7 linked regions of the Homo sapiens genome follow. The protein of the gene in region 3 purifies or fractionates together with the protein of the main gene of each other region. This does not show direct contact. Each region holds a gene or a part of one and is shown on either strand. Other genes may lie near its edges. The genes, in order: NRP1, TGFBR3, LRRTM4, ZC3H18, TRIM44, RRP1 and BOD1.

Region 1 (3,500 bases), on a different chromosome or scaffold from region 3:
TTTGGGCAATTTCAAACATATTCACAAATGGAAAAGAAATAGTAGAATGAATTCTCTATGTGCACGACCCTGCTTCAACAATTATCAGATCATAGGAAACTTAATTTATGTCTGTCATCCCTGACTCTGAATTATTTTCAAACAAGTCCAAGCATATATTATGTCCCCTCGTTTATTTTACAACTAAAGAAACAATTCACAATGCTTGCTCTCTCCCGACCCTTGAAGGGGAGGTGGGGAAAGACGGTGTGGAATTCTTATTCACTGGGGAAAGATTGAAAGTGTAGTGTATTTCCTTTGAGCAGGTAGAAACCTCACCATGCCCTAGATCACAACCCTCCCACCACCTCCTGCCTTACTTTCTTCCTAAGATTAATTGGTGGGGGAGGAATGGGTTGGGGGACAGAAAAAGCTGGCAGCTTCTCCAGTGAACTCTATTATCTGCCCCCTTCCTGCTACCCACCTAGTCATTTCACTGCCCAACTTGAAGTACAGTATAAAGGACCAGCAGACTGGACGTGGTGGCTCACACCTGTAATCCCAGCACTTTGGGAGGCCAGAACAGGAGAATCAGTTGAGTTAGAGAGTTAGAGACCAGCCTGGGCAACATAGCAAGATACTGACACTACAAAATAAATTTTTTTTTTAAAATCAGCCAGGCATAAGGGCGCACACTTGTAGTCCCAGCTACTCAGAGTCTGTTTTAGGATCCTTTGAGCCTAGGAGTTCAAGGCTGCAGTGACCTATGATCACACCATTGCACTCCAGCCTGGGTGACAGAATTAGAACCTGTCTCTAAAGAGAAAAAAATAAAAATTAAAAATAAAGAAATAACCAGCCATGTCTGGCCCAACACACATGCACACACACACACATACACACACACACATATACACACTCACAACAAACGCCCAATCCATGAACTTCTGCACCCACTCAGAAATACTTACAGAGCACTGCTTGCTCAAGTAGTGGCTTCCCAAAAGGTACCCCAGGGGGGCATTTGCTGATGCTAGGAAATCTCATTAAATTCTCCCCATCTTGGCTCTTTGGGTGAGTGAGTCAGTGGACTGAAGGCTGGGCCAAGGGTACTTCATGCCTTTCCCATTTTGTGGTTCACTTTTCTCCCAGTGAATATAACCATTAAATAGGTTGAATAGGCCTCCTTCCACCACAGCCACCTCCTTGCCTAATGAGAATGACAAGGAAATTGGATAAAATTGGACTCCTTCAAATCTGAGACACTTTCAATTGAATCTTAAGACAGGCAGTTTTAGAAAACTTAAAATACTTTGACTGTAAATGGCACTGTACATATAAATGGCATCAAATTAACTAAATGCAATTAGCCAAAATGAAGGCAGTAATGGTGGAAAAATTGATGCAAAGTGAAGCAAAATGGCTCAGTAGGATCTGACATTCAAAGGAGGTTAAAAGCTATGTTAGCCAGAGACAAAAGCTAAAAGGCTTGCAGAAGTAAAGTGCTAATTGAGAAAATGAAGACAGAGTTCCTGACCCAGAACTGTGATAAAACCCTTGAAAGGGAAAATATCAGTGCTTTATGTGTTAGAGTATCAGAGAAGGAGAGCTTGTCGTAGATTAACAGCTGAGAAGTGCGATTCCTTCAGAAGGGTTTGACTCTTTTGTTCTCTCAGCCACCCAGATTTACTTGGCAGTTGTGCCAGGTCAGCTCCGACTAGAAAGAGCCCCTGCAGTTCTAGAAACACAATCATTTGTGTAGAGAGATGGGTGAGCCCGACATCTGAAAGGCAGGAACTACTTGTTAACGGGAAAAAGATCCAGATGAAAAGAGCCCTTCACGAAGCTCCCGCGCATAGACTGACATTAGAGAGTAGATGGTGCTTTTTTTATAATATTATTTGGTGAAACTTTGCAAGCCAGACATTGGGTTGTTTAAAAAGAAAATGAACACTAGCTAGGTAAAATATCCTGCTGCTTATCGAAAGGCATCCCATTTGCTTGGTTTTCTGCATTTGACCTCAAAGAATGGAACTAGGTACCTCCTTTCAGAGGATTCCTGAAGTCTGGCATCTCTCCCTGGTTCAGTGAACAAGTGGTATTTGAGAAGCTCTGTTACAGGGCAGATGCTGACTTGGGCACTGGAAATACACGTGTAAAGGAAGAGGTCCCTACGCTTGAGGAACTCGCAGTCTGATCATGGTTGGGAAGCAACCACAGTGCAGTTCAGTGAGGGCTTCCAATGGCAGAGGCCAGTGACAATGGACCATGTAAAAGATGACGGAAGAGGGGTCAAGGAAAGCAGCCCTGTCTCAGACACCGGCTGAGCTAGGCTTATTTTACTGGCTCATGTTTGGTGTGCTTTGCACAGGTTTTTGTATGGGAAGCAGTTAGATAGAGGCAGAGTGTGCATGACTTTGGGAACTACCTCCTTGCCTAATGAGATTGACAAGGAAATTGATGAAATTGGATTCCTTCCATTTTCACTGAGTAGAGCAGAAGTTTGTGGATCGGGTGTTTATTGTGAGTGAGTGTGTGTGTGTGTGTGTTTGGCAGGACACTGCTGGTTCTTTATACTATACCTTAAGTTGGTGATGCAGTGACCAGGAGGAAAACAGGATGGGGGTGGATAAAAGGTCCATTGGAGGGGCTGCCAGCGCTCCCTCTTTGTGAAGAAGTGTGGATAGGCTGCAGGCAGTGAGCAGCCTCTGAAGAATTCTAAGCAGAGGAGCAACACGAGCAGTTTTAATTTATATATATATATATATATATATATATTTAAGACAGGGTCTCTGTTGCCTAGGTTGGAGTGCAGTGGTGTGATCTTGGCTCACTGCATCCTCCACCTCCCAGGTTCAAGCGATTCTCCTGTCTCAGCCTCCTAAGTAGCTGTAGTCCCAGCTACTTAGGACTACAGCTATGTAGGAGCTACTACAGATGCCCGCCACCACGCCCGGCTAATTTTTGTATTTTTGGTAGAGACATGGTTTTGTCATGTTGGCCAGGCTGGTCTCGGACTCCTGACCTCAGGTGATTCAGCCACCTCGGCTTCCCAAAGTGCTGGGATTACAGGCGTGGACCACCGCGCCCGGCCACACGAGCATATTTAAAGACCACAGTGTGAGAAGGCAGGGACCATAAGAACTTCCTCAGGCAGAGGATTCTTGAAATCTGGCATCTCTCCTACTGCACTGAACAGGCATCATTTGAGAAGCCCTGTTACATGGCAGGTGCTGTGTTGGGCACTGGAAATACAGGTATGAAGGAGGGGGTCTCTGTGCTTGAGGAACTTACTGTCTAGTTGTGGATGGGAAGTGATTATGGTGCAGTTGAGTGAGGATGTCCTATGGGAGAGCATCCCTCTACCTACGTCCACTTCTCTCCTTCTTTCTAACACCCATTCTCTGACTAGCCTCAATAAACTTTGAGCAATGAGCTCAATAAGTGGGATTAAGACATGGCAGCAGCATTGCCAATTTCAGTCTTTTTTCCGTAAGATTGAGGGGACAGAGGCACGATGG
Region 2 (3,500 bases), on a different chromosome or scaffold from region 3:
ATATCATCTGTTGGTCTTATGGGAAGGTCCTCATCTAATGAGCTGGTTTTGGTGCTCAGCTGCAAGCTCAGCTTCATAGTGGGAGGGGTGAGAAGCTTAAAGGGTCAAAGTGGGGTACTTCCATATGTTAAAAGTGACTTTGGTGCACGTGTTTCTGTTTTGGAAAGACACATAACTCTCACATTCGCACTGACTCTGGGACAGAGCCCGCTGGCGCTAGATGTTGTTTTCCTTGATCATATGGATTCTGCCCCTCCCCCATTCTGAGAGTTCTCTTTCTTTGAGCACACCTTCTTTCTCCATTGGGGAAAATATACTGCCTTCTACATGCTTTTCCTAAGCCAAGATGGCTGTTTTTCTCTTGCTTTTCTGGCTGTACAGTTCACATGGGCAGTTGGTCAACAGCACCCTATTGCGCTGTGGATTTCAGGGGTGCTGCATAATTGCAGATTGTTCTTTTCCAAATCTATGCCTGGCTTTGCTGATTTATGCTAATCAGTGGTCAATCTTCCTCCTGTACCTTACCCTGGATATTTTGGGTTTTTTCCCCCATCCTTCAAATGCTGGCTTACTTGAAGTGTGTTATTGGTAGTTTTTTTTTTCCATTCTTGTTTTCCCATTTATACCTTTTCATATATCACCTATATTTCTCATAGTTTATCCTCTATTCCCTCTACACCATACAGTCCCTTTCATAATCCAAGTTAACAGTGTTGCCACCTGTTCATTGGTCATCTCCAGGTGACTGTTGGTCACATAATGGCAGTTTTCTTTTGGTTCATTTGTCTTGGGGAATTTACAAACCCAGTTGTTAATAACCCAAAATTTTAAATCTAGAATACTACTATTACTAATAGGTAGCATTTATTGACACTCTGGGAACTGTGTTGTTTGCATGTAACTTTTACTTTGCTAGTTTTCACAATTATGATATCTTGTGGGTATTCGTGTTCTCATTCTGTAGGTGAGTAAACTGAGTCTCGGTGCCCAGCACGTGAGCAGGAGAGCATGTAATTTTTATGAGCTCGTCTCACTACAAAGCCCGTAGTCCTTCTCCTACTCACTTCTGGTCTAAAAGTAAAATCCTTTTTAGTAAAAGATTTGCTGATAATTTATATATATAAACTATATATACATAAAATATATTAAAAAATAATATATATTTTTTCCCTCTGCTACAAAGGTATCCCTTTTTGGGATACCTTAGACATTCTGCCGCTACATACTTTCTTTTGAGATTAGAGAAGAGATTTGCAGTCCCTCTGTTACACATTTTGGCATGTGGTTTCTGAGTTCATGTTAAACGGCAGTTTTTAGTAATAGCACATATGTAATTTGCCACCTTTCCAAGATAGAATATCTTGTTTTTCAGAAGTATTGCAAAAATACTGAAGTGTTAGTATTTACAGAATGTCACCACAGTGACATTATCAGAATCCTCTTCATTAGCATTTTCACTGTTGAGTGTCCTGCAGTTAACCACCACGTAGGAATCTTTCACAACAGTGCTGCGGATTCAAAGCCCCATGTGATGTCAGGGGTTTCCCCTGGGTATCTCAGCGTGGAAAGTCTGTTTCTATCTCCATGTCTTTTGAAATGATTCTGCGGCTGTTGGTCTATGGGTAAGGACTAGCTGTTTCTACAAGTGTTTAAGTTTATTTTGATCCTAAATTTAGTCAAAGAATGAGGCATAGCAGGGAGGGGCAGTTCATGCAGTGATCCACGTGTCACCAAATGGAGAATCTCCTCTGGTCTGGGGATTTTAGCTAAGTTCAGGATAGTTGAGGTTTGAATTCTGTTTACACTTGGCTAAACATTACTTCCTGTTTCTAAGGAAAAGAACCTTAACAAAATTTGGACGTAGCCCATACAAGTGTTTTCAAAGGGGGAAGTATAAATGAGTCGGAAACGTTTCCAGATTAGATTTCCCCTAAACTACCCCTGGGCTTATGGAGCGAAGGGGGAGTACTTGGCAAGGCTGATTTGGATCTGTGAGCAGCTGGGACACTTTACCAGGCCCATGATGGCCTCCAGGTTGCACCGTCACTGACACCCAGCGCCGGAGCCAGCTCTGCCTTCTCGCCGATGAAGCAGGACTCTCATCAGGCTTACTCTGACTTTTTGCAATTTAGAAGCTCAGTCTTCCTGCCTAGGTTAAATAGATTTTGCCGCTGAACTCTATTTTTTGGTCAGTCTTTAAAAAGAGCTTAGCTTATAAGTGTTGTACTATTAAAACATTAGGGACTTTGCCTACTGGTGTTTTATTTACTTCGGAAAATCCACTTTAAATGCAAAATATGTTTTTATTTTTAGCTCTCAGAGGACTCATTGGGAGGTGGAAGAGACTTACTCATCTTGTATTTGAATCTAATGGACTAATATTTGAAAGAAATAATTCACTGTCATCATCTATATCAAATTGAAGTGGAAAATATCTTTTTCTTTCAATGTGTGTGTGTTACTTTTGTAATTAGAAAGAAGGCTATAACTATGTTATGAAGATAAAGCAGCGTGTCATCTGAAGGGCTGTCTTGGCATATGGTCCTTGTGCCTAAAGTGAAAGTGAGATGCTAACTCATTTCCTAATTCATCTTTCTGTTCTTTCATAGGTATCTGTTACTAAGGCTGAACAAGAACTGGGATTTGCCATCCAAACGTGCTTTATCTCTCCATATTCGAACCCTGATAGGATGTCTCATTACACCATTATTGAGAATATTTGTCCTAAAGATGAATCTGTGAAATTCTACAGTCCCAAGAGAGTGCACTTTCCTATCCCGCAAGCTGACATGGATAAGAAGCGATTCAGCTTTGTCTTCAAGCCTGTCTTCAACACCTCACTGCTCTTTCTACAGTGTGAGCTGACGCTGTGTACGAAGATGGAGAAGCACCCCCAGAAGTTGCCTAAGGTTTGTGGGCCTTCATCCATTCGGATGGTTATTTTGGCATTTTTAGGTGAGGCAGAAAAGTTTAATCCCAAGGTCTTGCAGGTTGAGGTTTTTTGTTTTGGAACTGCCCAACTGAAATATTAAAGTCACTATTAGCAGGGAACTGTGAGTTTTATGGAGTCTTAGATAATAAATCCTGACAGCATGAGTTTCTTTTTTCCATGCGTGCTACTTAGTAGTACCTTACGAGTGATAAATCAAGACGCTTTTCCATGGAGGGAGATTTCTGGCTTTATCTTTGCTTTTCAGATAGTTTGCAGGCCAAAAACACAGCAAGCCGAAAGGACAAGTTCATTGTGAGAATTAATTTTTCCAGGTCCTGCTGGGACTGGCATTGTCATTGTTTTTTAACCTTTTCTGTGTGAAATATAAGGTTGACTTGTCTCAGGGAGACTTCTAGGGGAAACTAACAAATATTTTAGCTTTTCTCAGTTTCATATCAGTTCATCATATTTGCCTCCTGTCACTCTCCAGATTGAATGTTCTATTGCCATAACAAAAAGCAGAACCATTTGACCTTGGTGGAATGCATTTGATAGGGGAGATCTGCAA
Region 3 (3,500 bases):
GCTGATGGAACACAGAACCATTTGGAGAGGCTCTGAGAACACATTTACAAAAATACCAAATCTGAATTAAGCAAAACTTAAGAATACTTTGTTTTGACTACTGGAAAGGAAACAATGACACACACAGGGACCCAGGTGGTTAATGTACTGTACACTATTACTGTAAAGTACAAGACCTCAGCCTCTGAGCTCCTCAGAAACCACGAATTCAGTTGATTACATAGTGCCCTATAGAATACACTTGAAGAGTAAAAGAGCAAATATTTCAGATACTCTTTCAAAGCTTGCCAATGCACTTGGCTTTTGAATTCTTGCTATTGGTCTGCTGTGCAGGAGGGAACTTTACAATGGTTTTTACTCTCCAAGAGGTTTTAAGCCTGCCTCAATTACAATAGAGAAAATGACATGAGCCCTCTTTTAAGTGCTGTAAAAAAATAAACTGCAATTGTAATAGCAAAACAAATTTTCTCAGTTCAGAAATGGTGTAATATGTAAACGTAAAGCTTTGCAGTTAATGCAGGTCCCTTGACTTTTAAGTCAACTTAATTCAAAGACAAATACCATGATTTCTTAGCTATGAAATTGTTATCTCCCACTATAGTTTAAATTAAAAGGCTTTAAGTAAACATTGCAAATTCAACAATGTTCACTTATGAGCTACTTATTTTCATCTGTAGATTCACCTGGTTGTGCAAAAAGATCCCTAAGGCCCTGATTTCATCTCACATTCACTGTTCTATACATGTTTGTGAATTCAAGTATCTCTTCTTTGTGAAGACCATTGACAGAGCTACAAGACGGTGAACAAAACCACAACCCATGTTTAATGTTCATGTTGATGTCTTTTAGTAATTTGGCTAATTTGTAGAAAATTAGTCATGTATTTAAGTTAAAGTGTAGAATAAATGTTCTATAATCAGTGAATGTTGTTTCCATTTGGAAATAATTTGCTGAATTTTTATGTGATTTTCAAATTATGTTACTTCACCAGTTAACAAGAGAGTACGAATGGGCTGTATTACTCTTAGGAAATCCCTTTTGAAAGCATTCTTCCCACTGAAATGTCAGCACAAAGTGTCTTCTTACATTTCGATGCTTTCTTGGAGTATAAGTGACCCATGGCACCAATCCCACATATCTCCAGGAATCTGACACCCTGAAAAATCCTATGAGGTTTCCTAAAATAGGTCCCGCTGGCAAACATTTTACGTCTGAACCTGTACTGATTGAAAGAGGTCTCATTGAATAAGATATAATAAAAACAAAACAAAACAATAGACTTGGGGTGAGGGAGATTAGAGCTAACTTTTATTTAGTATCTAGTAATTCGGCCATGTCACTTTACAGTCTGTTCCTAGCTCTCTCTGTCAGCACAGAAATTAAGGTCCAATTTTTAAAATATCACTATCAATCACAACTCTGACCTAGTATGTATTTTTTGCAATTCTCCTTTTTACAGAATAGAATGGCATATTCAAGATTTTATCAATAGCTTGTTTGATGAGAAATACTCTTGTTACTATTTTGTAAAAGACTTCCTGAAAATAGTTTTTACCTTCCTTTAGAGGTAAAACAACAACAAATCAGAAACAAAGCATTACATATTGATTTAATTTTCCAACTCATTGTGAAAAACAGTGAATTATACAAGTTAATAGAAGTGAATAGTAAAAACAGAATGGGAATTTATCTAGGCTATTGCCAGTCACTGTAAAATAAATTGTAATCTGAATATGTGCTTTGATCAAGTATTTTTTCAAAAACATGGTCTACCATGATTCCCAATTTTCAAACTTCAAAATGTGTCCCAGTACACACATTGATATGCACATACATAAATTTAAAACAAAACTCTTATGAACAACTTATCTTTATACTCTGATACTTTCTATTCTAGCTAATTTAATTTTTTAAATGCTTATTTGGATTCACAAAATTGATTTCATAACCTACTAATGAGTTGCATTTGCGCATAGAAAACATTGCTTTAATCTAAGACTTAAAAACTGTGAGGAGGTGACTTTCCCCTTAATAAGCAGAGAGGTGTTAAAAACATAATTCTCATAAGAATAGAGAGGGAATTTGTGTCAACGTTGTATTAATCACATTAATAAAAATACCAGCAAGAAAATACTAGAGCTAGTTTTAAGAGCATTTGAGGAACTTGCATAGTAAACAGACGAATGACATCTAAAAATAAGTTTGCTGAATTATATTTAAGACTGGTTAACTCCCTGCAGTATAGGGAGCCATAAGACCTCTGGTGGTTAACTCTAGTAAATTATAAAATCAAAACAACTTAATTTCTGCACTTTTAGATACAGAAGGATTCAAACATAGTCCAGTCGGGAGACTGACAAAATATCAGTTATTTTAAGAAAGAAATTTTAGAAAGAATGCTAACTGGATATAGAGTTATTAACCAAGTTTATGCAAAGGCTAAGATATTGCTGTGGTATCACAGAAACAGCAATGTTAGGAAGTAGCTACCACCCCTACAACTTACAGGGCTGAGGGAACGAAAGGAAGATCATTAAGACTTAAAAGCTTGGAGGAGAAGCTTTGTGGTGATGAACCTCAAATCTCTCTGGTGCTAGTGCTGGTGTCTCTGAGGAGGGCTTGATGAGATCAAATGTTGGATATACTGCAAATGTTGGAAATACTACAAAGAGGCAGCACCTGCTGCTGTGGGAATAAATTGATATAGCCAGAATGAAGACATGCCATTAGGATAAATTCCTGGAGGAGGAAGAAACAAAACAGGAAACCAACAATGGGAGCAATTCCCTCTCCCTGCCAAGTCTTGCCATCTCCCTCCATTGGCAAAGCCTAACAGGAAACCACAAATAAAACAGATATGTGGTTTGCAAAGTCCAAACCTCAGCATCCTAAAAGCAACCACAGAAGGGAACTTAGAGCTGAGAGTCAATAGTTTAAAACCTGCCACAACATCTAACCTTACAGGGCAATGGAGCCTTTGCACTTTTCTCATCTGTGGATTGTTCATCAAGAGTGTCAAATTGTAACTCGCAAGTATGAGAAATATTCTAGCATGAGAACAACAAGTAAGCAAGTATCATTTGCTTTTTCCTAAATTTGGAATATATTTATCTTTATCAGAAATTTATGGCTTAATTAAAAGCTCCACCAAAATTCAAAATTATTATAACTGATATTTTCTGCTTTTTATATTAAATGAATTTCTGCAGACCATTATTCAGGTCTGTTACGCTAACATTAGACACATATTTGGCTTGTTACCTTGAAAACCAATAATAACATTACATATTATGAACATAAAGATGTGCCTTCTCCCATGATTCCAGAGTTCTTTGGTCCAGTATTGATATGTGATAGAGTGTTAGAATTAATCTATAGGAAATTGTGATTATTTTTTAAAACTAAATAAAAGTTACACATGATGATAGTAAAGATTTCAATTGTGTATAGGTATCAAATAAAAAGTTACATATATGTTTATATATATAAATAAAAGTGTA
Region 4 (3,500 bases), on a different chromosome or scaffold from region 3:
CCAGGTTCAAGCGATTCTCCTGCCTCAGCCTCCCAAGTAGCTGGGATTACAGACGCACGCCACTACGCCCAACTAATTTTTTGTATTTTTAGTAGAAACAGGGTTTCACCATGTTAGCCAGGCTGGTCTCAAACTCCTGACCTCAGATGATCTGCCCACCTTGGCCTCCCAAAGTGCTGGGATTACAGGCATGAGCTACCGCGCCCGGCCTAATTTTTGTATTTTTAGTAGAGACAGGGTTTTACCAGGTTGGCCAGGCCGGTCTGGAACTCCTGACCTCAAGTGATCTGCCGGCCTCAGCCTCCCAAAGTGCTGGGATTATAGGCGTGAGCCACCACGCCCGGTCCTGTTATTTTTAAACAAATATTTAAAACCTTTTCTTCGTTTTAGTTTTCAACACCCTAAATACCGACAGGCATCATCTGCAAGTCAGATGTTCTCTGGACCCTCCTCCTACTTGTTAAGAGCAATGGGGTCTCAGACCCAGCTGCTCCGCATCCCCAGGCTCCCGTCCCTCTGCCCTGCCCCCTAGGGGCTGGGAGGCTCACCTCGGTCTGGGGATGTGTTGGGCCGCTTGGCTGGAGGAGGGCTCTGCCTGTCCTTGTCTGATGGTTCATAGCGCTTCCTGCTTCCTTTATCAGCCGCCTGGGACAAGAGAGAGGCCAGTGAGGACAGCAGGGCCAGGAGCCAGAAGCCGTGTCCTCGCCCCAGAGGACATGGGTTCCTTGCCAGCAACCTGCTCTGCTCCCAAAGGTCCCACCACACACCCATGAGACCCCGTAGCCCTGAGTGAGGCCTCCAGGACCCGGACCAAGGGCACCCCCACTGTGCACTTGGGGCCCTTCACGTTCCAGGGGAAGCACCCTGCAGGCCTTCCTGCTCCCCACGGGGGCCACTCTAGGAGGACCTGGGACCCATGAAGCCAGGCCTCTTGCCCTTCCAGCAGAGGACAGGGATGTGTCCTGCTGAGGACAGAGGACAGGGACGGAGGCTTCCTGTATTGTGTTGAGACTGCATGGCAGGGAATGGCGGCCACAGGCACGAAGAGAACGCCCTCTCTGTTCAGAGAGAGGCCAGCAGCACCCAAACCTCCCCAGATGCTCACACTTCCCAGCCCAGGCCGGAAAGATGGAGTCTCGCTTTGTTACCCAGGCTGTGCTGACACCTGCAAGGCCCCACTCGCCCTCACTCAGGCTCCGTCCCCCAGGAGGAAGCTGTCTCAGGAAGCAGATGGACCCAGGCCTAGACGCTGGGGCAGCCACCAGGAGGGCCCTTGCCCTCACCTTATTCAACAGTGTCAACTTGATCTCCTTGTGGGCCACAAATGTGCCCTGCTGGGGCTGCCCGGGGGGTGCCTGCTGGGGTGTCGAGGGCTGCTGGGAGGACTTCCCCCCTGCTGGAGGTTTTGCAGATTTGGGTGGTTGTGTGGACGAATCCCTTTTCCGCTTTTCCTCTTTAACACCGTCTTCTTTCTTAGATTTTCCTACCAATGATAAATCCGCAGTCATGGGGGTACTGGTGATTTTCCCATGGCCACACCAACAGCCAGGCAAAGTCTGTGCTGATGCCGCCCTCCTCCCCCGGGAGCTGCTCCCCAAAGGTACCAGGGCTCCTGAGTACCTTTCTCCTTCCTGGTCTGGGCTGGGGCCGGGGACCGAGAGCTGGCTGAGGACACGGGGCTAGCCAGGTCTGCGTACATGTCCTCCGAGTCCACGCTGTGTGCAGAGCTGCTGCTCGACGTAGCACTGGACACTGAGGAGACGCTGCTCACGCTCAGGGACCTGGACACACAAGCACATCTCACCACACCCCAGCCAGACTGGAGGGAGGGGCCAGCAGGGGGTGCTCCATGGTCCACTTTTACGCAGTGTCCATTTATGGATCATGTACCCACGGAATGTGTGATTTTGGGGGGACACTGGGCAGTTTCAGGGTTACAAAGTAAGGGACGTCCCCATGGCTAGGCCAGGGCCCCATTTCACTAATCAATGTCAGGTTGCAGCCAGGCACGGCTGCTCACGCCTGTAATCCCAGCACTCTGGGAGACTGAGATGGGCAGATCTCGTCACGAGCAATGGGGTCTGAGACCCAGCTGAACTGATGTCAGGAGTTCGGGACCAGCTTGGCCAACATGGTAAAACCCCATCTCTACTAAAAATACAAAAATTAGCCGGGCGTGGTCGCAGGCGCCTGTAATCCCAGCTACTGGGGAGGCTGAGGCAAAAAAATCGCTTGAACCCGGGAGGTGGAGGTTGCAGTGAGCCGAGACCATGCCATCGCACTCCAGCCTGGGCGACAAGAGTGAAACTCCGTCTCAAAACAAACAAAAAACAAAACGAATGTCAGGTTGCTTTTTGGGAAGGGAAACAGGACTGAGCTGACTCAACAGCGGCAAGGATGGAATTTAAGCAGAGTCCCTGGCTTAGACAAAAGGGAGATAGCCTCAGCCCACAGGGAAATTAAAAACACAAGGAGCAATTCCGCAGTCTCAGGGAATGCCTGAGGAACACACGGCAGACAGACTGGAAACAGCAGGTCTGTAGCTTCACTGGCGTGCACTCAACACGGACACAAAGCACACAGGACTGGCACCTGAGTCTGCCCTGCCCATATGCTGCTCGAGAAAACACCAACCACGTCTTCCAGGTACATTGGGTACCGGAGCAAGGAACGGGGGAATGTAAGAGAACCATTTTTTTTTTTCAAAAGTCAGGTCTTTAAAACATTTCAGACTTATTAAGAAACATTTAGGCCAGGCGCGGTGGCTCATGCCTATAATCCCACGAGTTTGGGAGACCACGGTGGGAGGATCACTTGAGCCCAGGAGTTTGAGACCAGCCTGGGCAACACAGCAAGACCATGTCTCTCCAGAAACAAAACAAACAAAAGAAACAAAGAACTGTGACAAATATATAAACGACCTGCTGCCTGGAAATGAAAGAGTTCTATGCAAGGAATCTAAGGACTGATTTAATACTTTCTTTTAAAACAACTAAATAGCAAAAATCCTTTTTTTTTGTTTTGAGACAGGATCTCTGTTGTCCAGGCTGGAATGCAATGTCGTGATCACAGCTCATTCAACCTTGACCTCCCAAGTAGCTGGGATCATAGGCACACACCACTATACCCAGCTAATTAAAAAAAATTTCTGGGCTGGGTGCAGTGGCTCACACCTGTAATCCCAGCACTTTGGGAAGCCGAGGCGGATGGATCACCTGAGGTCAGGAGTTCAAGATCAGAAACGTGGTAAAACCCAGTCTCTACTAAAAATACAAAATTAGGCTGCGTGCGGCGGCTCACGCATGTAATCCCAGCACTTTGGGAGGCCAAGGTGGGTGGAATGCCTGAGCTCAGGAGTTTGAGACCAACCTGGGCAACATGGTGAAACCCCATCTCTACTAAAATACAGAAAATTAGCTGGGCGTGGCAGTGTGCGCCTGTAGTCTCAGCTACTCAGGGGGCTGAGGTTGAATCCGGGAGGCGGAGGTAGCGAGATCGCG
Region 5 (3,500 bases), on a different chromosome or scaffold from region 3:
GAACTTATTAAAATTTAGAACCTTTGCTAACATGGAAATGTGATTTAAGCTGTGTTTGGAGAACACATCTAAAGTAGATATTGGTTGTAGTCATGTTGTGTCTGATTTTTACTGTGTAGACTTGAGAGGCAAGAGAGGTCAGAGGGGGGAAAATTGACCCTTTAGTATATTTTAATTTATATAGTGGAATCTTATTAGGTATTTCCTATTTTGGAGGAATTGAAATTAGTTCTGTAAATTTGGAAGATATGTTATCACAGATCCAGAGGCCAATTTTGAGTAAGAGATATTTGCAGTATCTGTTTATTCTTGTACTTCTTTGTTGTCCCTACCCCATAGAAATGACAGTGAGTTTACCTCTTTTTGCTTCCTTTCCCTCATTGGTGAAATGAATGTTCCTACCTATCTGATAGAGTTGTTGAGATAAGAAAATAAATGAATTCCTGTGATTTTAGATTGTCCTATATATAATATAATGTATTATTATTATGGCATTCATGTCTTAAGGTTATATGTTCATTCATTGATTTGTTCAGACTTTTTACAACATCTAGATGCTGGGCATAAGAGATACAGGGATACAAAAAAATACAGTTCTTACCCTTAAGGAACTGAAAATATCACGAGGGAGACAGATAGTAATAAAACTGTTTCATACTTCCTTTTTTATTTACCATGTGCCAGGCTCTGTTCTGAGTACCTTGACATACATTAACTAATTTAATCTTACTGCAGTCCTATGAAATAGATAGTTATTGGCTCTATTTTACAGATAAAGAAATTGAGACAGAGAGAGGGTAAGTAACTTGCCTAAGGTCACACAGCTAGTGTGTGACTAATGGCACTAGGGCTCTAGTCTGTGCTCTAAATCTGTACTGACCAATATAGTAGTCACTAGTCACATGTGGCTTTGGAGCACTTGTAATGTGGCTGGTTTAAATTGATTGGGCTGTAATTGTGAAATACTAGATTTCAAAGACCTAGCATAAAAAAAAATCTCATGTTGAAATTGCATGTTGTAATGATATTTTGAATATACTGAGTTAAGTAAAATACATCAAAATCAATTTTACTTTTTAATTGTGGCAGTTATAAAATTATATACATACGCTTGCATTTGGGACTCACATTAGTCTTTTATTGTACTGTGCTATTCTAAATCATTATACTGTAATAATAGTAATAGCATATGAAATTTTTGAGCACTCACTGTGTGCCACATACTGTGCTAATATCTTTTAAAACACTTTCAGTTAGGCCCCAAAATAGCCCAGTTTATTATCACTATTTTATAGAAGGGGGAGAAGGTTTTGAGACATTTAGTAATTTGCCTGAAATTAATCAACTAGTTAATGGCAAATCCAAAATTGGAACTGTATATGTCTGACTCAAAAACCTGTGAGTTTTATGGGTTTTTTTGGTGTTGAACTCCTGGCCTCAAGCAATGCTCCTGCCTCAGCCTCCTGAGTAGCTGAAATTACAGGTGCAAGCTACCACACCCAGTTAAAAAACCTGTGTTCTTAATCAGCACACTACAGTTCCATTCATAATTAAATTTCAGACTATTTTCTTTGTTTTAATTTTTATAAGTATATTTAATATTGCATACTTCTATATCTGATGCATAAAGGTTCAAAATAAAAATTACCAGTCTGTAAAATAGACATCTTGTATGGAACTGTCTTTTGTAGAGCTTCAGTGAACACCAGCACAGTTGAGCCTGAGATGAAGCAGTGAGTCAGCCTATACAAATTGTATTTAATTTTCATTCCATATAGTTGTGCCAGTCACTGGGCAATTTATGTCCTGACACTCTTTGTCCATAGAGAAGGGAAAGAGGGGCAATGCACCTCTCCTTTGTTGTTTAGCTCTCTTGGCTGTTAAGAAAAAATTGCTTTCTATTTCATTGTCTTCCAAAATGCTGTTTGTGTTTGAGAGAGCAACAAAATGCTGTCTAGTGACCCCTCACTTTTCTTTCTTCTAGAGCAAAGACTCAGGTGGACTGAAGGCCGCTATGATCGAATTGGTGGAAAGGTTGAAGTTCAAGAGCTCAGACCCTAAAGTAAGTATTGTTTGGAATTGATTGGGTGTTGGTACCCCAAGCATTTCATTCTCCTTGAGCTAAAATTGTGAGGTGTTGATGATCATCTCTCTGAATATTGCATTAAGATTTAATTAAGCCTGCCCATCAGAAACAGTGTCCTGATATGCCTAGAGATAAGTCATCTATTTTTCTCCTTCTCTATTTTATGACTTACAACACATAATCATTCATTGTTTTCCCTGAACTGCAGACAGGTGCATTTTTAATCCTCCTTTACCAGGGGTCTTTGAATCTTTGGTCCTCTGTGTCCATTAGATGCAGCCAAAGGCGTCTGAGAGAAATACAGATCATCTTTTTTTTTTTGAGACAGAGTCTCGCTCTGTTGCCCAGGCTGGAGTGCAGTGGCGCAATCTTGGCTCACTACAGCCTCCGCCTGCCGGGTCCAAGCCATTCTCCTGCCTCAGCCTCCTGAGTAGCTGGGATTACAGGCCTGCGCCACCATGCCCTGCTAATTTTTGTATTTTTAGTAGAGACGGGGTTTCACCATGTTGGTCAGGCTGGTCTCGAACTCCTGACCTCGTGATCCGCCCTCCTCGTCCTCCCAAAGTGCTGGGACTACAGGTGTGAGCCACCGCACCAGCTGAGAAATACAGATCATCTTAATGCCAGGGACTGGCATGGGATCCAGACTCATCTAGTTGGTGTTCAGCACTAGCGTCTTATCTCTCCACTGCTTCCAGGAGCCAGCTGCCACTCAGAATACTTTTTTCCTCATGACCTGAAGTCTGGTTTGGAAACTGGTTTAAGTGTCCCGGCTTTTTTTTTTTATTTCAATATGTTAGGGTCTAGAGGATTGATATTCTGGGAGACACCATAACGGGGTGGAGGTAAACGGAACTGAACAGACTTCCTTCTCCTTCCTACCCAGACACTTACTGTGGCACTACCTGGTATTGGGGCCAGCTGGCTTTGCCTTAGAATCAAAGTTTCTCACAATTAAATAGGGAAAGGCGCATGATTTTATTTTACTGTAGGTTCTTTTTGTTTTTGTTTTTGTTTTTTTTTTTTTTAAGAGGAATGGGACTAGCATTTCTTGAGTATCTACTGAGAGTCAGGCACTTTGCTAGGACTCTTACATGATTGTACTAAAATATACATACAAAATTTTAACCATTTTTGAGTGTACAGTTCAATGGCATTAAGTACATTCACTTTGGTTTTTTGTTTGTTTGTTTGTTTTTGTTTTTTGTTTTTTTGAGACGGAATCTCGCTCTGATGCCCAGGTTGGAGTGCAGTGGCATGATCTCGGCTCAGTGCAACCTCTCCCTCCCAGGTTCAAGTGATTCTCCTGCCTCAGCCGCCTGAGTGGCTGAGACTACAGGCACATGCCACCACACCCAGCTAACTTTTTGTGTTTTTACTAGCGACAGAGTTTCACCATGTTGGCCAGGCTGGT
Region 6 (3,109 bases), on a different chromosome or scaffold from region 3:
AAAATAAAAAAATAAAAAAGTAAAAGAGGCTACCAATAGGAGAGGAATTCAGTCATTCATGTCATAAGCACAATGCGGTTATTTAAAACAATTCTGAATATGGGGAAACGTGCACCCAGCAGGGCCTGGAAACAGCCAGAGCGTGACAGTGCCGGCGCAGCCATGAAAAACCCCTCCCTGTGAACACACATGTGAAAGAAGATGCAAAGTCACTGTGGCTTCCAGTTTCACAACTGCAATTCGGCATCTCTAATTTGCTTTTTTCCAGAAACTTCTGTTAGCATGGTTGTTTCCTTAGCTTTTGACCAAAGAAACTTCAAAAACAAGAAAGCGTTATAATGCACCCCGTTCCCTTCCAAAGGCCTCCAACTGCAGGGGCTCGTCCCAACAGGCCCTGCTGGGGGTAAAGAGGCCAGGCCCAGGGGAACACTGACCAGGCCCAGGGGACACTGCCCAGACCTGACGCTCGCCACCGGCAGTTTACGTTAGACACGCTTGTCTTTTTTTTTTTTTTTTTGAAACAGAGTTTCCCTCTCGTTGCCCAGGCTGGAGTGCAATGGCGTGATCTTAGCTCACCACAACCTCTGCCTCCCAGGTTCAAGCAATTCTCCTGCCTCAGCCTCCCGAGTAGCTGGGATTACAGGCATGTGCCACCACGCCTGGCTAATTTTGTATTTTAGTAGAGATGGGGTTTCTCCATGTTGGTCAGTCTGGTCTCAAACTCCTGACCTCAGGTGATCTGGCCACCTCGGCCTCCCAAAGTGCTGGGATTACAGGTGTGAGCCACTGTGCCTGGCCACGCTTGTCTTTTTAAGTTCCTTTGGGGAAAGAACCCTAACCCCTAGAACAGGGGCCCTGGCCTTCCCTCTCCTTGGCCCCTAACTGTGCCCTAAGCCTGCCCCGGCCGCCCAGCTGAGTGGGACTGAAGGAGGTGTCACCAGGTGCCACCTGCCCGGGGTTGGGGGACACTCGAATGCAGCAGGGCTTTGGGGAACCGGATGCAGTCCAGGGTCTGCACAAGGCCAGCCACAGCCTAGAGGTCCTTCCTGGTCCCAGGCCCACTCCAAGCCCTGGCCTCTCGCTGGATCCCACACGGCCTGGCTGGCTGGGCACCCATGGAACAGAAGATGCGGGCAAAACCCAACGCAGCGGCCCCTTGTCACCTATGCAGGCTGTGGCCACAGCGCTGGCGGCAGACAGGCCCTTGTTCCATGCAGGTGGAAAGCCCTGGGCTACTGTCAGCTCTCCGTCGCCACAGTGGGGACCCGCCACCTCCCTCACAGGCTCCAGCAGGTGTGAAGGGGAGAGGGGCAGGGAGGACGCTGAGGGTGACCTGGCTGAGGGAAAGAGGTGCGCAGCCTGCGGACCCGCGGGTACCCAGGATGGCGGGGCGCTCCTGCCTCCAGGAACAAGGCTCTCGCGGAAGCCAGGTCTTCCCACCACACACACGCTCACCCCGGGCAATCCAGGCCTTACTGGAGCTGAATTCCTTGCACAACTCTAGACCCCAGATTGAGGGGGAAGCAAAAGAGCCCCGTCCAGACAGCCCTGTTAACACCTGGGCAGTTCTGTGAAAGGAGAAATGTCTTGCAAGATTTTTCCACAAACATGAATATAAACCACCACACTGCTCGGAGGCTGGCGCCTGCCACCTCCCACACGTCCGTAGGACACACCTGAAGCGACACTTCCCCTGGCAAGGGCTGCGCGGCATTTTATTTTCTGAACCCCCCACAGCAGGGGCGGCCAGTCCTGCTGCAGGCAGAGTTTCAGTCTTCGGAGTTTGACCTTCTGGCCCAAGGTCATCACAGCCACAGGCGGAGGCTCTGGGGAAAGGTCCAGTTCCTGGGATGCTGGCCCCTAATGATGGGCCCATCTCTCCAGTGCCGCCCTTCCCTCCCGCCTGGCACAGGAGTTCTGGAGCCACGGTCCTGAGTCTACAGAACAGCCCGGTCAGCCTCGTCCCGCGGTGCAAGCGAGGCCTGGCCTCCCTCCCTGCCTGTCCTTGGCCCGGCCACATCACTCCCTGCGTTTCTTCTTCTTCTCCGGCTCCTGGACATTGGCCGCCTTTGCTCGGGCACTGGTCAGGGGCCGAGGTGTCCTCCTTCTCTGGCGAGCCCCTCTCTGGCCACGGCCCCTGGGCTGATCTCGGAGCAGGGCCCGCTCAGCTGTGCCTGGCTGCTCACCAGCCTCTGCCCGCGCCTCGGGGTCGGCCCCTACACCCCTCCTCCTGCTCCTCTTCCTCTCCATGCCCGGGCTCGGGGGCTCCTTCTCACCTTTCCCTGACAAAACAGCAAGACCCCATGAGCCAGAGAATGCCAACACGGGCTCTTTCCACTTACTCCAACTCAGGCTGAGGATGCCAGCACCACAGACCTGGGAGGACAACACGGCCACAACAGCCAGCCAGACGCATCCCGTGTCCAGTGTGGGCGCCAAGCTCCATCCACACGGCTCAGGACCTCAGCAAGGGCTGACCTCAGAAGGACCAGCGTGAGGACAGGGTCATGAGACCCAGGAGCAAAGGCACAGAGGAGTAGGCAGGACTGGGCTCAAGGCAGAAGGGGAGGTGGAAGAACAGGACGCCAGGCAGTGCCAGGTCCTGAACGCCAGGGCCGACAGGGTTCACACAGCCAAGGGCCGGCTACAAAGAGGAGGCCACTGCCTCATGGGAAATGAGATGGACGGCTTCAATGGCACGGAGCTCTGGGCAAGGGAAGGGGTGAATCCCTAGGCCCTGGGGCCAGTTTAGCATGGAGAGAGTAACAGGGAAGGCTTCCCAGTGTGGGGCAAAGCCACCATGTGCCTCCTCTGCACCCCATTCTTGCCATGGGCCCCCTGCCCTGCCCGGCACTGTGCTCAACCCCCTCCACTGCAGGTAGGCAGCTCCAGGCCCTGAGTGGTCTGCCGCGGACCCAGGGTTGCCCCTGGTGAGGGCATCACATGCCAACCACACTCGTGTGGCCAGAGGCCCAACACGGAAGGCAGCCCCAGAAATCAAGGACAGAAGTGGAGGGAAGAAGTGGAGGGAAGAAGGGGAAGGAAGACGTGGAGAGACTCAGGAATCTCTGGAGGGTGCGGGAGAGGAGCGGACGGGGCTTGGATCTAA
Region 7 (3,500 bases), on a different chromosome or scaffold from region 3:
TCCTCTCACCATCATTTCCAGTACCCTGTCCCAAGTGTTTGAATATAGACATTGATATGCCCTGATTTTTGCTCTACTTCAGAAAGGATCGGGGATGTAATTTAGCCCTCTAGGAGCTTGGAACTAATTTGTTTGTCTATTTCTTGTTTGCTTCCAAGTTGCTTATTATGTGTTACAGGTAGCAACTACAGCTGAAGGCCATGGTGAATTGCTGGTGATGTAAATACTCCCAGCCCTGACTGATCGGCCTTGTTTAAATTTTAAGGATTAGTAAACAGGTTGCTGCTGGAGCTACTTCTGCTTAGGCTATTAGGAGAATAAATGTTGAAGGAAATGGAGTCCAATTCGGGGCTTACTGGCTTTGACAGTACGAGGAAGCTTTTCAGTGCCACACGTGTCAAACTCTTTCTCACCATGCTGTCATTTGTTTGTTGTTTTGGAGCAACTCACTTAGTTTTGTTTTTGATTCTTTTGTACAAGGTTGGGTGATTGTGGGTGAGATTGTGCAGTAGGAATAACAGCTGCTGGTTGAGAATTACCCCTCAAAAGTGAAAATAGCGTGAGCTGTATATGGTAAGTGGATTGACCTCTAAACTCCCTAGAAGGGCTGTAGCTTTGAAGGTGGACATTTATTGGGCTCGCACGTGACACTTATTGGGGCTAAAGATGAATCCCGAAGGAACTAAATAACAGAATGATCTGTTTGTCTCCACAAGGTCAGGGATGTTGGAAGCTGGAGTAGACAGGATTATTTCTCAGGTGGTGGATCCAAAACTTAACCACATCTTCAGGCCACAAATAGAACGAGCAATTCATGAGTTCCTGGCGGCCCAGAAAAAAGCAGCTGTGCCAGCACCCCCTCCAGAGCCCGAAGGCCAGGACCCTCCAGCTCCATCTCAGGACACTTCCTAAGGTCCAGTATCCTATCTTCTGTCCAGGAGTATGCATCTCTGGCTTGTAGATATGTAAAATGGATAGGAATGGGGTAGGCCGTAATTGAGGATCATTCAGGAAGTATTTACTGCAGATGGACTTCACCTACTGTTATAAGTCACTTTTTACTGAGAACTAATTAGTAGCAGTTTCCTGTGTCAGTGACTGATTTTCTGTTCCACCAGCGCTAAACATGTAAGCTATGGATAGATGCTTCATTAGAAATCAGCTGGGATGATTGGTGTGCATAAAGGGGATTCAAATGAAAGTCTTATTTTGCTGAAATGTTTAAATGAGTCTCTCCTGGACATGAGTTAACTTAGGCTTGCAATTTTATTTAAAATCAAGCAGTGCCTTCTGAAGTGATATCCTAAATGGGATTCAGAGTCTGCTTTGAGTGCGACTCGATTTCCATGAATTTAGAAGGAGTTTGTTTACCACTATCAATTACCATGGGATTCTTCTGTTAGGAACACTCCCCCTTTTTAAATTAAATTTGGAATTAAATGTAATTTTAAACAGCTGTAGATGTACAAAAGAATGCTTTTTGCAGGTTTTGGGAGACATTAGTAGGAGCAGCGATGAAGTTAGCAGTGGACTTTTCGCCGTTGTTGGTGACTGCTGGGATATGTTTTATCCCTTCATTCTGATTTGGTGTTCTTTTTAAGATTCTCTGAGATGCCTGTTATAATCAGTAAGTGAGGTGAATTGACTAGGGCGTTTTGAGTGTCAGTGATGAGCAACGCAAGAGCATCAGGACTGTCTTTTTGTTCCTCTATTGAGAGAAGCCCTTGAGTCCAATATGGAGTGTAAAACATTCATTTTAAGTCTTTCTTTTTAATTGTAAATTCCTTTAGGAACATAAAAGTGAATATAGTCTGTTATCAATAAATAACATTTTGATATGATTATCTTTCCTTTTTAGAATACGCCAGACACCTTTTGAAAGCTAATTTTTGGTGAAGAAATGGATTCGGTTACATAAGAGTGCAACTTCAGACTGAAGATAGGCCAAGGTCGTCACTGATCTCAAGATTTCAACCTTGACCATGGGCAGTGACCAGATTGAAAGGGGAGCAAGTTCGGCAGTGGGAGAGTTGACCGTGTCACCCCCTGCATTGTGCTGCCATTTGGCCAGCCTGTCCAAGGGCATGACACCAAGTAGACACTACAGAGAGAGAAACACTACAGCAACCCAGGGTTGTCCTGAAACAGACTTTTATACTTGAACATGGAGACTGCACATGGACTTTAGGGTTTGTGCTGTGGGATAAACGGAAGCTACAGTGAGAACATAGCCAGTCCCAAAGACAATTTCAAAGAAAAATGACAGTAAAGATTAGCTGGGAGTAGTCTTTGACAGTGCTTATTTGATACTGTCTCTCAGAGTTTGCAAACCAGATTGTACAAGTCATTAGCGTCAGATAGCTTTAAAGTTGTGACCTTCTTGTACATGAATCTTCTAGCCAGTTTCCTTTCCTTTGTAACGAAACATGAAATCCTAGAATGTATGAGAAGTTCAGACATTAGGCATAAGGAAACTCGTTTGCAGGCTCTCTGTCCAGGGCTGCTTCCTGTCCTGGAGGGGCCAGTGAGTCTTAGGTATGTTTATTTTATTCTCACATTTGTGTTTTTTTAGAAAAGTGAATGGTCAATAAATGGCTTATCTTTCATAATAAAATTATTTGATACTTTTACTCCGAAGCTTCAGCTGAAGCTTAAACCTCAGGTCTGTGAAGGGCAACCTTTGTCTTCTGCCTCTGTGCACCACACATGATCTACTGGCAGTGAAGATTGGTACATATAACTTGGAACTATGAAACTAGTAGGTGTAGCTAGTAGTGGGCTGTTTCTCTCCTCCCTGAGCCATTACTGACACTGGTCTTTAGTTGAGGTAGTCCGTGGTATGTGTCAGTGTTTGTCATCCTTGTGTGTGCAGAAGTAGCACCTGGGGATTTAAGGGAAAATGCATATTTCTGATTAAGAAGTTCTGGGGTGGGACCTAAGAGTGAGTGTTTCTGACAAGCTGCCAGGTGATGCTGATGCTGCCAGGCCTCTGAACATACTCTGTATAATAAGCCTTGGATAATATATCCAAGATTATGTCTAACTAAGTCTGTGGTTCTTGGTTGAGTCTACTACTGCATATTGCTGCTAATCTGATCAAAATTTTAACCAATTCAGTTGGTTCCCTGTTAAGACAAAGGCTCCACTTCCACCTTTACCATGAATACCCCTGTATGAGCACTGCAGTGCCATATTCAGCAAGATGCTTGGTAGCATGTGCCCTAATTTTAAAGCAAACTGGCCACACGTTTAAGGCAGGTGCCAGTTATATCTGACGTGTGGTCTGTTCCCACCTGGTAGGTGCAGTTCCATTTCAAGCTGCCTTACAGTTGCAGGAGTCAACAAAGTTCTTAACCCCAGAAAATGGACCCTCCACTCCTCTCTACTACTAGGCAGACAGGGAGTGGCCAGAATTAACCAGTCCTGTGCTTGCAGAAAAGCTGCTCAGACTAACTGGAGTGTCTCCTCTTCAGGACCACATAGCTTTAATGGGAAGTTCC

What was found.
Region 1: the proteins of LRRTM4 (region 3) and NRP1 purify together in Homo sapiens (co-immunoprecipitation; 2 studies listed by BioGRID and IntAct, with this or other methods). This does not show direct contact.
Region 2: the proteins of LRRTM4 (region 3) and TGFBR3 purify together in Homo sapiens (affinity purification with mass spectrometry; one large-scale study listed by BioGRID and IntAct). This does not show direct contact.
Region 4: the proteins of LRRTM4 (region 3) and ZC3H18 purify together in Homo sapiens (co-immunoprecipitation; one large-scale study listed by IntAct). This does not show direct contact.
Region 5: the proteins of LRRTM4 (region 3) and TRIM44 purify together in Homo sapiens (co-immunoprecipitation; one large-scale study listed by IntAct). This does not show direct contact.
Region 6: the proteins of LRRTM4 (region 3) and RRP1 purify together in Homo sapiens (co-immunoprecipitation; one large-scale study listed by IntAct). This does not show direct contact.
Region 7: the proteins of LRRTM4 (region 3) and BOD1 purify together in Homo sapiens (co-immunoprecipitation; one large-scale study listed by IntAct). This does not show direct contact.

What each region holds. Positions count from the first base shown.
Region 1 is NC_000010.11:33,188,168-33,191,667, reverse strand, and holds part of NRP1 (neuropilin-1 isoform a precursor), read left to right. Parts: intron 1-3,500. UniProt on the Homo sapiens protein: Cell-surface receptor involved in the development of the cardiovascular system, in angiogenesis, in the formation of certain neuronal circuits and in organogenesis outside the nervous system. Mediates the chemorepulsant activity of semaphorins.
Region 2 is NC_000001.11:91,711,652-91,715,151, reverse strand, and holds part of TGFBR3 (transforming growth factor beta receptor type 3 isoform a precursor), read left to right. Parts: intron 1-2,609; coding exon 2,610-2,909; intron 2,910-3,500. UniProt on the Homo sapiens protein: Cell surface receptor that regulates diverse cellular processes including cell proliferation, differentiation, migration, and apoptosis.
Region 3 is NC_000002.12:76,749,377-76,752,876, reverse strand, and holds part of LRRTM4 (leucine-rich repeat transmembrane neuronal protein 4 isoform a precursor), read left to right. Parts: intron 1-3,500. UniProt on the Homo sapiens protein: May play a role in the development and maintenance of the vertebrate nervous system. Exhibits strong synaptogenic activity, restricted to excitatory presynaptic differentiation.
Region 4 is NC_000016.10:88,625,903-88,629,402, reverse strand, and holds part of ZC3H18 (zinc finger CCCH domain-containing protein 18), read right to left. Parts: intron 1,782-3,500; coding exon 1,621-1,781; intron 1,484-1,620; coding exon 1,284-1,483; intron 646-1,283; coding exon 549-645; intron 1-548.
Region 5 is NC_000011.10:35,683,275-35,686,774, forward strand, and holds part of TRIM44 (tripartite motif-containing protein 44), read left to right. Parts: intron 1-1,984; coding exon 1,985-2,062; intron 2,063-3,500. UniProt on the Homo sapiens protein: May play a role in the process of differentiation and maturation of neuronal cells. May regulate the activity of TRIM17. Is a negative regulator of PAX6 expression.
Region 6 is NC_000021.9:43,802,685-43,805,793, reverse strand, and holds the end of RRP1 (ribosomal RNA processing protein 1 homolog A), read right to left. Parts: intron 2,474-3,109; coding exon of another isoform or gene 2,349-2,473; exon of another isoform or gene 2,289-2,348; intron 2,283-2,288; coding exon 2,020-2,282; 3' UTR 501-2,019; downstream 1-500. UniProt on the Homo sapiens protein: Plays a critical role in the generation of 28S rRNA.
Region 7 is NC_000005.10:173,606,651-173,610,150, reverse strand, and holds the end of BOD1 (biorientation of chromosomes in cell division protein 1), read left to right. Parts: intron 1-480; exon of another isoform or gene 481-573; intron 574-716; coding exon 717-912; 3' UTR 913-913; intron 914-1,858; coding exon of another isoform or gene 1,859-1,886; 3' UTR 1,887-3,006; downstream 3,007-3,500. UniProt on the Homo sapiens protein: Required for proper chromosome biorientation through the detection or correction of syntelic attachments in mitotic spindles.